Linked DNA regions of Homo sapiens: region 1 is linked to region 2. A link means that fine-mapping ties the variant in region 2 to the expression of a gene that starts in the linked region. Tissue or cell type: cerebellum. Region 2 holds a variant in brackets; the other region holds the start of a gene. All regions are shown on one strand. Distances are from middle to middle.

The links. PIP is the estimated chance that this variant, and not a neighbour inherited with it, causes the effect.
Region 1: it holds the start of ABCC8, and the variant in region 2 is fine-mapped to the expression of ABCC8 in cerebellum (GTEx, PIP above 0.99).

What each region holds. Positions count from the first base shown.
Region 1 is chr11:17,473,263-17,481,360 of GRCh38, forward strand. It overlaps ABCC8 (ATP binding cassette subfamily C member 8), which reads right to left and starts at 3,583. Exons shown (of 39, transcript NM_000352.6): 1 at 3,367-3,583; 2 at 1,624-1,765. The coding sequence starts at 3,514. It overlaps LOC124902641 (a long non-coding RNA gene), which reads left to right and starts at 3,389. Exons shown (of 2, transcript XR_007062609.1): 1 at 3,389-3,469. RefSeq lists an enhancer at 2,239-2,795.
Region 2 is chr11:17,395,619-17,403,711 of GRCh38, forward strand. ABCC8 (ATP binding cassette subfamily C member 8) reads right to left here. Exons shown (of 39, transcript NM_000352.6): 29 at 7,043-7,135; 30 at 2,721-2,823; 31 at 2,066-2,179; 32 at 1,575-1,695; 33 at 1,298-1,428; 34 at 234-312; 35 at 1-100. Among named protein-coding and RNA genes, the nearest start is that of KCNJ11, 11 kb to the left of the region's middle. The variant G/A (reference allele first, on the strand shown) is at 3,422.

The DNA.
Region 1 (8,098 bases), 78 kb after region 2:
GGTGTAGGGGTGGGGGTGGAGGCGGACTTGTCACGTGCTTGTGTAGCAGTATGCCTTCTGGTCTTCTTGCTGGTCTAGGGACTTTAATAAGCAGGCAGAGCTGCTGCCTCCAAGTCAAGCAGGTATTTTAGAGATCACTGCTGAAGCCAGGATGCAGGGACATTGGGGAAGGGAAGGTGGGGAACGGGAGGGAGGATGAGGGAGCCTATCCCCTGCCATCCAACTACAGGAGCCAGGCAGCACTGCAGGAGTGCAGTCTGGGTATAATCTGATTCCAGCTCAGGGGGCGCTGGACCTCAGATACTCAAGCCAAATATCCCTCTCCTCCACCACTCCCTCTCCTGGCAGTCTCTCATCCTTGCTGGTTACTGGATTCTTCCTTAGTGAGATGGCTGCTCCCGCTCCTCTTCTGTCCCTGACTGCTGACACACCATTTCTGTCTGCAGTTATTGCTCACCTAGACTACTGCAGTCAATGCTAAGTCCTGCTTCTATTATACCTCTAGATTCTCCCTGCCTCCAGCCTGCGCTGAACACCTCAGGTTCCCACCTAAAAGTGTTATGCTGATGACATCTCTCTTCTGTTCCAAACTGCTGACCAAATCCGACCCAAACATGCAGGCTGGGATTCACAGTCCTCCTGAGATGCCCCAACCTGGGTTCCCAGCCTCAGCCTCCATCGCTCCCCAGCCTGTGTTTAATGCTCCAGCCCCTGCGCTGCTCCCTAGCCCTACCTGCTTTTCTCTTTGGTGCCTTTTCCCTTCCCTCAGGCACCACCAGTTCTCTCTCTCCTTCCTCCTCTGTGTGTCTGAAGCCTAGTCACCCTTCCAGACTCCGCTCCAAAGCCCTCTCAACCATGGAGCTTGCCCAATTCTGCCTTCCTCTCACCTCCCAGAGTACTTATTTGTAACATGGTTTCATTCATTCTCCTAAGGACCCAATAAATGTTTATGGACTGAATAATGTTTATGTTTATCACATGCCTTGCACTGTGAACACAAAGATGAACAAGACTCAGATTCTAACTCTTAGGCCTTTCTGACTCTGAAGACAGTTTTGCAAATAGACATAAACTTTAACATACAGTGTGATCTGTGCTGTAGCAGAGGTGTGAGGAGTGTGCTGTGAGGCCCAAACGGAAGGTGGGCATGGGGAATGAGGCCAGAGATAGGTGGGGCTGACTGTGAAGACCTTGAATGGTGGGCTGAGGATCTGAGACCACATCTTCAAAACAGCTGAGAACCAAGGAAAGGTCTTATGCAAGAGTGGGTGGCATGGTTAGATTTTTTTTTTTTTCCAAGAAGGTAACTCCGGCAGGTTGTAGAAGAGGCCAGACATTTTTCACTGGAGTTGTGGCATTCTAATAGGCTCTAGCATTATTTCACTGGGACTTGGCATGCAGGTCCGTGTTCCCTCTGCTCTCCTGGACTGATGGCAGGGCCTGGGACTCACTTGCGTCCAGTGCCCAGCTCAGAGAGGTTGGCACATAGAAGACACTGAGCTGCTGGATGTAGTAACAAAAGACATGGGCTTGTGGAATATAGGTGAGCTAGGATCTCCTTGGGCCTTTCAGGAAGTACCCTGGAGCAGATTCACTTTCCTGAGTCCTCAGACAGTCACTCACCCATCAGACAGGATGCCCTCTGCAATCTCACACACCAGGACGAAGAGCAGCATGAAGGTCAGGATCCACCGCAGGTTGTGCCCAGGGAAATGAAGCCATGTGCTGTGGTGGATGTGCACCTTGGAGCTCTGACTTCCCCATCCTGCAGGGAGAGACAGTCAGAGGCAGGATGCCTGCCCACTTGGAGGAGGAAGAGGGTGCATGAACCCCAGAAAGGTGCTTGGGCATTGGGTCCATGGTGAGGGTGACACCTACACATGAGGATCCCCAAGGCTGGTACACACAAACTAAACGTCCAACTCATTCAGCCTGGTCCTATGCTGGTACCTCCCCCACCACACCTTTTTACTGAGACAGGGTCTTGCTCTGTTGCCTCTGCTGGAGTGCAGTGCCACGATCACGGCTCACTACAGCCTTGATCTCCTAGGCTCAAGTGATCCTCCCGCCTCAGCCTCCTGAGTAGCTGGGACTACAGGCGCACATCACCATGCTCAGCTAATTTTTAATTTTTTGTAGAAAGGGCGGGGGGGGTCTCACTATGTTGCCCAGGCTGGTCTCGAACTCCTGGACTCAAGCAGTCTTCCTGTCACAGCCCACCAAAATGCTGAGATTACAGATGTAAGCCACTGTGCCCTGCCAAGGTACCCCATTATACATACTAACTTCTTGTGTGACAAGTCATCAGGTTAATAAACCGTTTGGCTGAGAACAGAAGTGTAAATGCTGTTCTTTTTTGATTTTTGATGCACATATGAGCACATATTTTGTATGTTTTATTTCTATTTCTATCTAACTGTCTTTGTTAATAACTAGCAACTCTGCTTCTGCAGCAACCTCTTGTAAATCTAATTTTGTGACAATCTTTCCTTTCTTCCCCAAAGCTGTATATGAATTTTAAGATTTGCTTGTTTTCTTAAAGTGAATGAACACGTTTTGGGGATGCAGGGGACACCCTATGAGTTGATAGACTTGACTGGTCTGGAAGAGTCAAGGTCTTGGAGAGAGATGGGGGGGACCTCAGTGGAGAGGCACGCACGATTGTCCCGGCCGTGGCGCCCAACTTTGCAAGCAAGGGCGCCGGGGTCGCTGCGTCGGCGAGTCGGAGCTACTTTGCGCAGAGCCTGAGAAGTTGCGCTCTGGAGACACATGCCCGGGTGGGGTGGCGGGGGAAGGGAATCCAAGTCCCTAGCTCTCGCCTCTCCTCGCCCAGGGCGCGGGCCTGGGACTGTCAGAGATCACGGACCACTGCGCGGCTCAGCCCGGTGAAAGCATAGGGGTTAGCTGGGCCTCCATCCCAGACTCCAAAGCACAGGCTTCCCTCTTCCCTAGGCCCAGCTGCGGCTGACAGGGAGGCTGCCTTGCGGGAGGGGTGACCCGGCTCCCTAAGCTGCGCCACGGAGGGTGAGGCCCGACCCCTCTCCAGTTTCCCACTGCGTGCTGAGACCTCCTCTTTCCCTTTTCCCCATCCCAGCTCTTGGCCCTGCAGAAGCAAAACTTGGTGATCCCATGGGTCACAAACGTCCGCTGTGTTTGGCGCGGGATCGGGGGCACCGGGGGAGTGAAGGGATGAGCTGGTGTGCGAGTGCGGGGACCGGCGGGCAGGACACAGGGCAGGGGACCCCGGGAACGAGGCGGACGGCGGTCGCGGGCCGGAAGGGGACGCCGAGCGGTGCGGCGCGCAGCGCCTCCTCCTCCCTCCCTGCTCTCCCGTCCCCTCCTCCGCGGCTCGCTGCGCGCACTCACCAATGAAGAGGATGGGGAAGGTGATGAAGAGTAGGAAGACGTGCGGCACCACGTTGAGCGCGTCCACAAAGCAGCCGTTGTTGAGGACCCCCTGGTCCACCCGGTAGGCGGCCGAGTGGTTCTCGCTGCCGCAGAAGGCCAGGGGCATGGCGGCGCGGGCGCGGGCTGGGCTCGGGCTCAGCTGGCTCCGCTGGCTCCGCGCGCCTGCCGCGCCTCTGTCCCTTGCAGCTCCGCCGCCCGGCCCGGCCGTCAGGCCCCCGCCCCCCGGGCCCCGCCCAGCCCCGCTGGCCTCCCCCTCCCTCACCCCGCCCTGCTCCACCACCTGCGGGGCCGGGGGGCGGCGAGGAACCCGACCGGCCCTGCTACGCTTGCGCCCACCTTCCAGATGTGGAGGCGCGTGCTCCCAGATGTTGCCGGGGTGGCTTCGTGAGTGCCCTGATGCACGCGTGCGCTGGGGGAGAGGGGAAAGGCAGGCTAAGATGGGGAGTGGGGTGTGGGCACACTGGAGTCTGGGTGGGAAAGGAGGGTGGGGCGTGCAGAAGAGGAGAGAAGGGCCCGCAAGGCCTGGAGTGGGCGGGTTCAGGGTCCCGAGTGTGAGTTCACCTGGGCGTGGTGCGGATGGATGTAGAGAGCCGAGGGATGGCGCAAGTCTCCACCCAACATGGATGAGAAAAGTGGGGCAGAACGTTACCTTGTGGTGGTGGTGGTGGTGGGGTGGGGCTTGGACATTTTCAAAAGTGGTCCCAGGTGGGGCACTCCTAGGTACTGCTTTACAGCGTATCTGGCACTTTCACACAAGGGATGTCCCAGAACTCTTGCTAAGTACAGGTTCTAATCGCTTCCAATTTTCTGATGGGGAAACCCAAGCTGCGAGGGAGCTGAAGGGAGGCCAGTAACATGACTTCCCCCAAGGTCTCAGTGCCAGCAAGCAGGGAAGCATAGCTTGAACCCAGCTCCTCAGGTCCCCCGTCCCCACCCCCATCATTTGTACTCATGCCTCTGGTACATGACAACCTTACAGCGACTGGCAGACCAATGGGTAGAATGGGTGACAGCCCCAGGCTGATAAAGAGGAGTTTAAGAAACGCATCTGGCCAGATGGATGTGAGGCAGTGGAGAGGGACTGAAATTCTTAACCTCACCTGGGACAGGCTTAACAGTTGGAGGACACCGTGCAATTGTAAAGACAACATTATGTCTTCCTATACGTTTTGGAGAGATTCTCACAAGACTGTGGCCCAAAGAAGTTTATATTGTATGTAGAAAGAACAGAAGATGGGATTTGGGGGTTAGATTTAAGGAGAACTTTCCTAGTTAGGGTATGAAGCATAAATGCACATGTTCTTAGGAACAGTCAGGGGAACACAAAAGAAAGACCCCTTCAGCCCCTTTGCCTACAAGCTTCACTGAGCCTGCCCTGAGGCTGCTGAGCCTGGTGAGCCTCTCCAGCACGCTGTCAGCAAGGCCGAGGCTCTGCCCAGGCCCTGAGGCAGAGGGCAGATGGGGTTGGGTGAAAAGCCTTGGGAAAGCAGGAGTTCAGGGTCTGAATGCCTCAGTCTCTGACTTTGGAGAATTTCTCAGAAGCCAAAAGATGTTTCTTGCAGCATCAGCCAAAATAGTGAAAACTTGGTGGCAAGAAATATCCAGCACCAGGGACAGGGGTTAATCAACCTTGAAAAATGCAACTGCTGGGACGGTGCTAGCTGAGTCTGTGTAGTCAATAGAAAAACTTTACAAGATAGTGTCAGGTGAAAAACGGCAAACAAAATTGTGCTTCCCATGATTATAGCCGTACGAAATATGTATACTTGCATGAAGCCTGCAGGGAAAGGTCAGACTTGGAAATTTGGTAAGGCGGTGCTCAGTATGTACTGGCTGCCGTCGCTGTGCTTATCCTCATTCCCTTTCTTTAAAAATGAGACAACTGAGGTTCAGAGAGATGAGATGACAGGTCCATGGTCACCCAGTAAGATTTTTTCTTTTAGTTTGTTTTTCTTGCTTTCAAGGTTTTTTTTTTTCATATTTTCTGCAATGTTGTTATTTTCTTTTGTAGTTACAATTTCAGTTTTTTCACACTTTCAGCAATGCTATCTTTCTTTTTAGCAGTAATAATATATTTACTTTTAAAGAACAGGGCTCCTAGTCCTGGCTCTACTACTACTAGTTGTGTGATTTGGGGGCAGGTTACCATTCTGCACTTCAGTTTCCTTATTTCTAAATGGAAAAGATAATAATATGGAACCCAGAAGATTAAGATGAGATCATGGGTATGAATGTGCTTTGCAAGTTGGGGAGATAGTCCAAGCTACTTCATCCCATGGGTGACTACACACGGCAGCCCCTTGATCAATCAGGGTTATTTAATGGTCTCTCCCTCACCCCACATTGCCTGGTGCAACCCTCACACTTGCCTATTCTGGGTCATTTGAAACAAACAAAAAGTCTGGTGTTAAGGGAGCATCAACTGGGACTAAGAGAGTGTTAAGTCTGGAGTCTTGGGGACTCGTGTTTGCCATCTCTAGCACAAACTTACTGTGTGACTGTGGACAAATTCCACCTTTCCCTGCACCTAGGTCTACACTGAGGACATGCACCACACTGCCCACCATGTGGGTGGGAGAATTACTTTGAAAAAGTGTGGAGTCAGGTGCGCACGGAGGCATGAAAGGACTTCCTTTGTAGTATATGGGTTGTATTCCTGGAATCAACCCAAATGCTCATCAGTATGGGGCTGGTTCAAACAGACAAAACCCAAACAGACAAAAAACAGATATTGTCTGTACTGTGGGATACTGTGGAGCAAGCGCAGAGAATAGAGTTATGCTTACTGGCAGGGGAAGATGTCCAAGACACAGACGCAGAGCGGTGTGTGGCATACAAAATCATTCATGTCTGTAACAGGGCTACGTCTGCCTCTGTCGGGGAGATGCTGGGTCTCTGGTGCTTCCCCACCTCTAGCCATGCCTTTTGTTTCTCTTGCTAGGGGCTGGAAGAAGGTCAGACTCTGAGAGCTTGCTTTGAGCAAGGGTACCCCGCTCTGAGAATTCCCAGCCATTCTCCTGGCAAAATGAAAACTAGGGCTGGATTTCCGGGATTGGATTCTCACACTCACCGGCTACTGGGTGGGTGTGGCCTCAGGCAGGGTGCAGTAAAGGGGCTGGTGCAGAGCTTCAGAAAAGTCCTTTCCAGATCCCTTGAGCCAGGGAGGTTAAGGCTGCCGTGAGCCATGATCGGGCCACTGCACTCCAGCCTGGGCGACAGAGAGAGACCCTGTCTCAAAACAAAACAAAACAAAACAAACAAACAAAAAGTCCCTTCCAGCTCTGATGTTGTTCTGGCCTTAGTGCCTTTGTCTCTATCTGGCTGACTAGGAGTGCCAGTGTTCCAGTGACCATGGCAGAGGGGGTCATTACAATGACAATGGTGACGTAATGGAGTGGGGTTATAGTTGAAGAAATAAACCCTTTCAATAACCACAATCAACAGCGGCCTGGTTAAAAACAGACAAAAGCAAAACTCATGGTGTGACCTATACTATGGAATAGTGGAGAACAAGTACAGAGCCTAAGTTCGGGTGACCCTTACTGACTGGGAAAGGTGTGTCCTTTCCTGTCTCCTTCAGGTGCTCAAAGCCTGTATCCACAGGGGAACTTGGAAGACTGTAGAACCAGTGAAAGAGAGGACTGATGTAGAGACAAAATGTCTTAACTGGAACCTGGGAGGGAGAAGTGATCTCCTGTCTCATCTCCATCCTGCCCCATGTCAGGAGGAGGGAAGTAGAGAGAGAAGTTCTTTTGAGAGGGAGCCTGTGCCCAGCCTCCCTGCCTGTCTGTTGTAGAGGTGGCTGGGGGACAGCCACCCAGAAAGGGCAGGTTGTGTGTAGACTGTGTTAGAAAATCCATACAAGGGCTTTTTAGGTTTTTAAGATTATTTTTTTTTTCCTGTAGAGATGGAGGTATTACTGTTTTGCCCAGGCTGGTCACAAACTCCTGGCGTCAAGGGATCCCCCCCGCCCCCTAACCTTGGCCTCTGAAAGTGTTGGGATTACAGGTGTGAGCCACTGTGCCTGGCTCACATACAAGGGCTGTTTTGAAGAAAGGTGTTCTTGTCCCAGGGCAGGGCCTCTAGACAACAGAGGCAGGGGACCCTCAGCCATACTTGAATGGCGAGGGTGAGGCAGGAACAAGACGAACTCTCCCCGGTCTCTTGGCATCACGTAACTGGAGAGGTGGGGAAGGAAATCCAAGAAGGCCCAAGGCTAATGTTTTCTGCCAGTCTAGTGGGATGGGGACTTGATACAGAAATTAAATAACATTCTTGCTCTTGCCCACTTAAGTTTTGGTCCAAGATCCCCCTCACGACAGTAACACAATGCAGAAGGGTAACTCCTACGGATGGCCTGGTTGCTCTATACCCTTGAGGCCACTTAAGGTCAAACTCAGCATCTCCTTGCATCCTCTAAAACAGCCAACACCCAGTCCATTGGTTTAAAAAAATGAAAGCTTTACTGAGCTCTTTACAGAGAGCTAGAAAAGTTGTAATTCACACAACTCACAGCAGAAACTTAGTAAACCCCCGTATTTCTCCTGTACCCCCAGTGGTCTTCTCCTTTGTGTGTATCTCATATCTCCTCTTCCTTTCTTCCACACGGTGTCTTTTTTAAAAAACATGCCCATTGTGACCCAGAGCAAGTCAATATTTGCCTTCAGCTTGCTTACCCACTTAGGACTTC
Region 2 (8,093 bases):
CCGCTGAAGAGGACGGGGTCCTGCAGGATGATGGAGAGGCGTGAGCGCAGGGTGTGCAGCGGCAGTTTGGCGATGTCAATGCCATCAATGATGATGTGCCCTGCATGGGTCCCAGTGAGGGTGCAGGGGAAGGCGGTGACTGCTGGGCCTCCTGTCATGTCTGACCACGTGCCAGGGCTGAGGCCTCATCTGGTGGCTGTGGGTACACGTGGGGTGCCCGCCTTACAACTCACCTTCGAACGTGTCCACCATGCGGAAGAAGGCAAGAGAGAAGGAGGACTTCCCACTGCCGGTGCGGCCGCAGATCCCGATCTGGAAAGAGAGAAGCAGGCACCGCCACTGGGACTCTGGGGCTGCTGGGAATAGCCTCTATGCTAGCTCTGGGTGTGTGTGCAGGTGTGGGAGGTCACAGGGTATCTTTTTGGCCTGGTTTTCTGACTAGTTTCTCTTTGGACACCACAGGTTTGGGCTTGTTTCCTGCAGTGGGTCCAGAGAGGGCTTACACAGGGACCGGCACGCAAGTGCAGGCATGGATGTCCATTTGCCTGGGCCTTGGTGTGGGTCTGGGTGTGCCGGGTACTTGGCTGAAGGAGAGCTGGGGGGCAGTGGTGTGTCTCTATGGGCATGGGTGTGGCAGGAGGACACAGGGGCAGCTGAGAGTGGTATGCATGGATGTGTCTGTGTGCCCCGCCCTACAATGGAGCCACCTCTGATCCCGTTGCTTCCTGGCACTTGGGTACCAACAGAAATTACAATACGGAGACAGATAGTGACATAGAAGGATGAGAGAGGCAGGGACAGAGGTACATCCCAAGGTCAGAGAATGACATGGACAGCCACAGCAAAGTGAGACAGAGACAAAGAGACAGAGTGGGAAACGAGAGGAGAGCTGGGCCAGGGCCATAGGCAGGGGCTCACCCTCAATACAAGGGTGGCCTCGCTGTCTGCCCCCAGGTCCCTGCCCTGAAGCTCGGGGCAGTGCCCTAGGGAAAGCCCCTGACCATTCGCAGAGAGGGAGGCCCTGACAAAGCCCGTGTGAGCTGGGGGAGTCCAGAGTGTCGGTCTCCTTGGTGGATGAGTGAGAAGACAAGGCCTGAGGGCAGCACTGGGGGAAGGCAATAGAAGGAGAGGAAAGATGGGCCCCCACAGGCCCAGGGCAGGAGACTGCGATGTCTGAATAGTGAGAGGCCTCGGCCCTGGAGGGCCACGAGGTGACTGCGAAGCCATCCAGCTCCGTGCATGCCCCATCCCCTGCTCACGCCTGTCCTGCAGCATTGGGTTGGGCCCGTGCTCTGACCTTCTGTCCAGGGGCGATGAGGGCATTGACGTGCTTCAGCACCGGCTTCAGGGAGCTGTCGTAGCGCACGCTCAGGTTCTGGATCTGGATCTTCCCTTGGTCTGGCCAGTTCTTTGGGATCAGCGATGGTGCTGGGGGCCGGGCTGGGCTCAGCCACCAGGCATGGGCCACAGCTAGTATCCGAAAGTGCCACCCCATCCCCAGGCTCCCTTGTGGCCCCCAACCCAGACACACTCCTCCTTGGACTCTTCCCCACCCCTCTCCCTGAGCCTCTCACCCAGGAGCCCCTCGTAGCTCTCTGCCTCGGTTTTCAGGAGCCCATGGATGCGCTTCACAGCCCCCAGCTGGAGCTCCATGTCTGCCAGGTTCCTCACCATCCAGTTGAGGTAGTTGGAGACCTGTGGGGAGCAAGCCAGTGGCGCACACTCCATGGTCGCTTAGTTCTGTCCTCAGCCACCAGAATGGCTCTTCTTAAGGCTGGAGAGGGGCCAGGGCCCCAGATTCCTTTTGCTGCCATCCACTGCCTGCTCAGAGCAGCCCTCCCTGGAGGCACAGGGAGGGTCAGTCATGTGGCTCCCCAACCTCCACCTGTCTGGGGCCTGGGCCCTGGGGCCTGCTGGTCAGCCTTCCTGCCCGCACTGTCCCTCTGGCATCAGATGCAAATGAAATTGGGGTAAGGCCTGGGAGTGTCTCATGTCTCCAGTGACGAAGGTGCTCCGGGAGTGCTGGTGTCTGACCCCTCCTCTGCCCTAGCCCACTGCCGCTCACCATTAGGGCGTAGGTAAGGCCCAGGCCCACCAGGCCAGCAGAGAGCTCCCTGTGCAGGGAGTTGGAGATGGAGGTCACCGCTGCGATGAGCACCACACATGCACCGATGTACTCCTGGGGAGGGAGAGGAGCTGACCTGGGCGCTCAGGGGTTAGAGCCACAGGCCCCTGTTCTACCTCACTCCTTTTCGGGGCAGAGAGCAGCTCAGCCAGGCCTCCACTCCAGCCCTGCAACTCATGCACACGTCACCAGACACACACAAGGGCTGCGAAGGCTGGAGCCCCAGGAGCCAACATGTCCCACAAGCTCATGCTCCCCTACCCCCTAGCCCCTGCACACCCTTTAACATGCACGCCTCAGCTGGCCCACAAACACACACAATGTGGGTGTCATATGACCCACTGCAGATACACATTCACCACAACTGTTCTTGCCACTGGCACACACCTCAGATACACAAGCCTCCAGGCAGTGATATGGGGAAAAGGAGCACAGGCTAGACACTAGGAGGACCACCAGGGCTGGGGGAAGCAGGAAGGCTTGGTGTCCACACGATCTGGTATCCTATCCTCTCTTTCATCCCCAGGTACCTGTGTGCTCTTGCTCTGGCCCCACCCTCCTATCAGAGGCCAGGGTAGAGGGGAATAGCACTTGCCATTCGGACTTCCAGCCATCTGTTGGCAGCTGTGAGGAAGAGGGAAGCAATGTTGTTGGAGTCTGTGTATTCGAGAAGCTTCTGCTGGAACCGGGCCTCATACCTGGAGGGAGGATGAGAAGCTCCTAAGGGAACAGTGTTGGTCCACATAGCTCCTAGGAGTCTCCCTACCTGCAGAGGGAGGCTCCAGGGCCCCTCCAGTCCCCAGACATGCCACCGTGGCCACTTCATGTAAGCTATCCCTCTCTGGAATGTCCACCCCACTCCTTTCTGCTTATTCAAACCTGTCCAGAATCCCCACCTCCTCCAAACTCTTGTTTTCACCCCAAGATCCATTTTCTCTAGGTCTTTCCCATTATAATAAGGGGCACCTCCCTTTACCCAGTTTCTCACCCAGGAATCACCTGGATTCACATTCAGCCCCTTGGCAAGTCCTCTTATGTCTCTCTCTAAAAGAGTCCTTGCCTCCCTCCCCCTCTATCCTGCTTCCTGCCCACCACAAACTCTCACCTGGACTACTGCATCAGCTTCCTGAATACGTCTACCTGCTGTCTCCCTACAGTCCATGCTCCACACAGTGGCTGGCTTAATCTATCTAAATCGCAAACTGTGTCCTCTCCCCCACTGTTTAGAATATTAATGATCTCCGGCCGGATGCGGTGACTCACCCCTGTAATCCCAGCACTTTGGGAGGCTGAGGC[G/A]GGCGGATCACCTGAGGTCAAGAGTTCAAGACCAGCCTGGCCAACATGGTGGAATTCTGTCTCTACTAATAATACAAAAATTAGTAGCTGGGCATGGTGGTGCACACCTGTAATCCCAGCTACTTGGGAGGCTGAGGAAGCCAGGATAATTGCTTGAACCCGGGAGGTGGAGGTTGCAGTGAGCCAAGATCACCTCACTGCACTCCAGCCTGGGTGACAAAGTGAGACTCTGCCTCAAAAAAAAAAAAAAAAAAAAAAAAAAAAACAAATAAAAAAGAATATTAATGACCTTCCACTGCTTATAGGATGAAGAACCCCCTCCTGCCAACCTAATTCCTGCCACAAACACCCCACACACTATGCTGCAGCCACTCAGCTTTTTAAAAGCTCTGTGACAATACTAAAGTCTTCCCTACCCCAGGGCCTTTGCACACACTATTCCCTTTTCCTGGAAGGCTTTTGCCCTTGCTCTTCATAAGGCTGGCTCAACTCAACCTTCAGGGCTTGCCTTAAATGCTGCCTCCTCAGAGAGGCTCTTCCTGGCTACTACCTTACTATAAAGTAGGTTTCCCCTATTATTGTCTGCAACCTGTTTGCTCCACAGTATCTGCTGTACATGCATTTCTCTAGCTATTTATAATCATCTCCCTCAATAGACTGCAAATTCCATGAAGATGTTTTATTCACCAATATACCCCAGCACCTGGCACTATCAATAAATATTTGTTGGATGAATGCATGGCACTCCCCTGACCCTCTGAAATTGATGGAATCTCTCTGCACAGGGAACTCTGGAGGCTTCTTTCTCATCCTTAGGTCCTCATCATGTTTTCCCTGAGTTACTGCGCATGGACCTGCCTCCTTTCTCTGATCAACCTGGGCTGCCGTCATCACTCTCCTTGGCCGCTTCCCTCAGACCTTGCTGACGTAGGCCCGGCCCAGAGGAGATGCAGGAGCACTTGTTTGATGATGGAGGAAGGAACGAAAGAAAAGCTGCCTCATCATCGCTGGTTTGATAGGACCAAACTCAGGGGACACGGAGGCACCCAAGACGTACCTTACTGGGCATTTGCTTTTCACCCTGGAAGGTGTTAGTTCAGCTTTGATTGTCTCTGCGTGGAGAGAGGGCATGTGTCTGAGGGGACTGAAGGGAGGTTCTGAGGTGGGAGAGAGCATGCTACTGCACACCCCCAGGGTGGAGACGTGTGGGAGGGTGACGTGTCTGCAGTGAGTGTGAAACCATGCCTGAAGGGTAGAGTAAGTGCGTGTTGAAAATGTGTGTGCATCAGGGCATGTGCGTGTTATAGGAGTGTGAGGCGCTCAGCGTATGTGGGTCTCAGGACTGTGTGAGTTGAGGGTCGGCAAGTGTGAGATGGGAGCTTCTGCCACAGGCGTGCGACAGTGTGTCTGAGGACTAGAAAAGAGCCCCAGCCTCGGAGCCATGTAAACCCAGGTTGGAGCCTGAACATCACAACTTCCTGGCTGTGTATCAGGACTGAGACTCAGTTTTCTTATGAAAAAAATGGGGAAGTGATAGTTCCTACATGAACGAAAACAACCTCCGAGCCCGCCACTGAGCCCAGTGCTGGGCACTCTTGAAACTCTTTTGGGAAAAAATAAGATCTCTTAGGAAAGCCCAGAAGGTCAGGCAAACCTGGGTTCCAAGCTCAGCGCCAGCCCCCGCAGTCTGTGTGACCTTGGATTGATTACCCAGCCTCTCTGGGTCTCGCTTCTGCATCTGGAGAATGTGGCGATTCGTACCTATGTTATGTGGTCCTTGTGAGGATTAAATGTAATAATGCACATACAACACTTAGCACGGTGCCTGGCATACAGTAAGTGGGCAATCAATAAGTGCTAATAGCTCTCAACAGGCTGCTGGATTAAAGCCAATGCATTAAATGTGTATGGGGTTGATTAAAAAGCCTTTCATTCAAATTTAAAAATCATTCACCGTGTCAGTAGGGTGTGGAAGACCTCACTGGGTAGCAGTGGCTCTGGCTGACCACAGGTTTGGCCTGATCTGAGGCTGTTTACAGGAAGCTGGGATCTGCACACAAGGGGCTGTGGCCCACTCTAGAAGAGTCACCATCTCTCTACCCCAGGGCCCTCTGAGACACCAATTGAGAGAGGGAAATCACCAAAACTTAGAGCAAAGGCTAGGCTCAGTAATGTCGAGGGACCTGGAAGTTGAAGGAACGGGAGAAGTTCAGGCTTGAGAAGAGGAGGCTGGGAGGAGACTCTAGAGTCATAATCCAGTCCCCAGCAAGCTTCTTTGTGGAAGACACAGCATAGGCTTGTCCAGGGGCAAGGGATGTCCAGGGAGCAGCGCCAAGGCCAGGGCAGAGCTTTGCTCTGCTCTTCTTTACTTAGACAAGATCCCTAAGAGGTGGATTTCCACTGGCCCTAGGTGCTCCAGGGTGGGCAGAGGGGCCTGGATACCTCTCCAGGGCTGAAGCTGGACTTCAGGGGTTGGGGGGAGGAGATGTAAGCCTCTCTGGCCCTTGGCTGGTCCTTGTGCCCTATGGTTACTCCTGGACACAGTGCTTGGTGTCTCATGGTTACTGTCATACTTCGTGCAGCTGTGCCACCCTAAAAATAACCTATTATCACTCTCTGGATGAAGATGAGAAAAGAGCCCAACTTTGTGTGTCAGGGGTCTCTGGCCTGCCTGACTGGAAGAGAGATGCCTCTGGAGATCAGACAGACTCTTGGGGAGTGGGAAACAACAGCTTCCCTCATTCCCCAGGCAACCTCAGATGCTCCTGTCCACCCCAACATCACCACTCAGGGTAGTGAGACGATGGCAGGGGCACTGAAGTTTTCAGGAATTCCTCAGCCTGGTGAACTCCTGCCCCTCCTTTGAGTCCTAGTTCTGATGACACCTCTGGTACAAAAACCTTCCCGGACTGTCTCTCTTCTATGCTCCCACAGCCCTTGAATCCGCTTTTTTCAGAATACTTGTCACGTGGATTTATCCTGGCCTGCTCAAAGTCTGGGCTGTAAACGCCTGCAGGGCAGCGGCTTATTTGACTCATCTTTTTAGTGCCTGGCATGGGGCTTAGCACATAGTCGGGGCTTAGTAAATGTTTGTTGCATGAACAAATAGGTTCAAGTCTGGGCTTTGTGGCACCTTACACAGAGAGGTTATAGAACGTCTCTGTGCCTCAGTTTCCTTGTCTGTGCAATGGAAATGACCATTCTCAGCACCGAGGGTTGCAGTGCAGAATGAGTGGGATTGGCCTGTACAGTACTCAGCATAGTGTTTGGCACACAGGGGCTCCTTAATAAAAGAAGGGCTTAGGGTGGCCCGCACCTAAGGCCCTTTCTAGCGTTGATACATGAAGACTTGTCCCAGCTTTGTCTCTTTTCATGCTCTGCCTCACAGAGGTCCTGGGCTTGTCTACAGAGCTGGAATTTTCCTCTCTAGAACATTCAGTGGGAGCCCACCTGGCCTGTCCCTGCTGGTGGATATCCCTTGGGCCTTGGGACCTGAGGCAGCTTGAGAGAGAACGTGTCCTTGGCCTTCCCAAGTGGAGTCCTGAGAATCAAATCTCATGGCCTGTGCCCCCTGGCCCCACCCCTGTTCCACTCCTACCTTGGGGGAATGTGGACTCGTACCTGAAGGCCCGGATGGTGGTGAGTCCTTCTACGGTTTCGGCAAAGTGTGAGAGAAGTGGAAGCTGGGTGGTGTCATCCAGCTGCTGCAGGTCCCTGTGGCGGGGAACAGAGTGGAACAGTTAAGAGGGCAGGCTCAGGGCTCGGCCTGGGCCTGAAGCCTAGCTCCACCTGCTACCGCTGTGTGGGTGAATGGCCTTACCTCTCTAGGCCTCAGCTTCTTACCCCGTGAAGGGGGAAGACAATGCCACCAGCCCATTGAGCTTTTGTGAGCACTGAATGAGATCGTTTATGTACAATGCTTAGACACAGCCTGATGTGGGGCACAATTACTGCTGTCCTGGGCATTGTCAACCCCAGGTCGCCATCTGTCCCTGTACTTCTGCTGCACAGCCTGGAGCTGAGCTAAGGCTGGGCAGGCAGTGCTAGTTCCATTTTACAGGTGAACAATCTGAACCTTGAGACAGCTGGCCAAAGGAACAGAAGACCAAACTCAAAGCGTTCAACCCCGTCTTCCGCTTACCCCATCAAGGAGCTCTTTAGACCCTGGCCAGTGATGTGCTGAAATGATAGGTTTCGTCTCGGGGTAAGGCCAGAGGTTTCCATGGCAACAGAATTGCCTCCTGCTCCCCAAAGCTGCACCTCGACAAGCACATCAGTGCCAGGGAGGCCAGTTTGGGATGCAGGAAGTTGATTTCCCTGATAAACCATCTCCAGGGTCAGACTGGGTGCCACAGAGACTGGGCTGTTTCTCTGGCAGAAGAAATGAACTTTGTAGAACAGCTTGTGCAGCACTTTGAATTTTTTGAGTGTCAAAAAGCTATGTTGTTCGTGTGGGTGTCGGGCCATTCTGGATCATCCAAGCAAAAAGCCATTTATACAAATGTTGATCCTTTGGGGCAGGTAATTGTGTCCAAAATGCATCTAAATTTTATTATTGCTAATAAGTATCTCAACTCTAGTTTCTAGCCAACTATGTGCACTTGGGAAAGGTACTTAACCTTTCTGACCACAACCTGCAGTCAGAAATATATTTTATCTCACAAATCAGTAC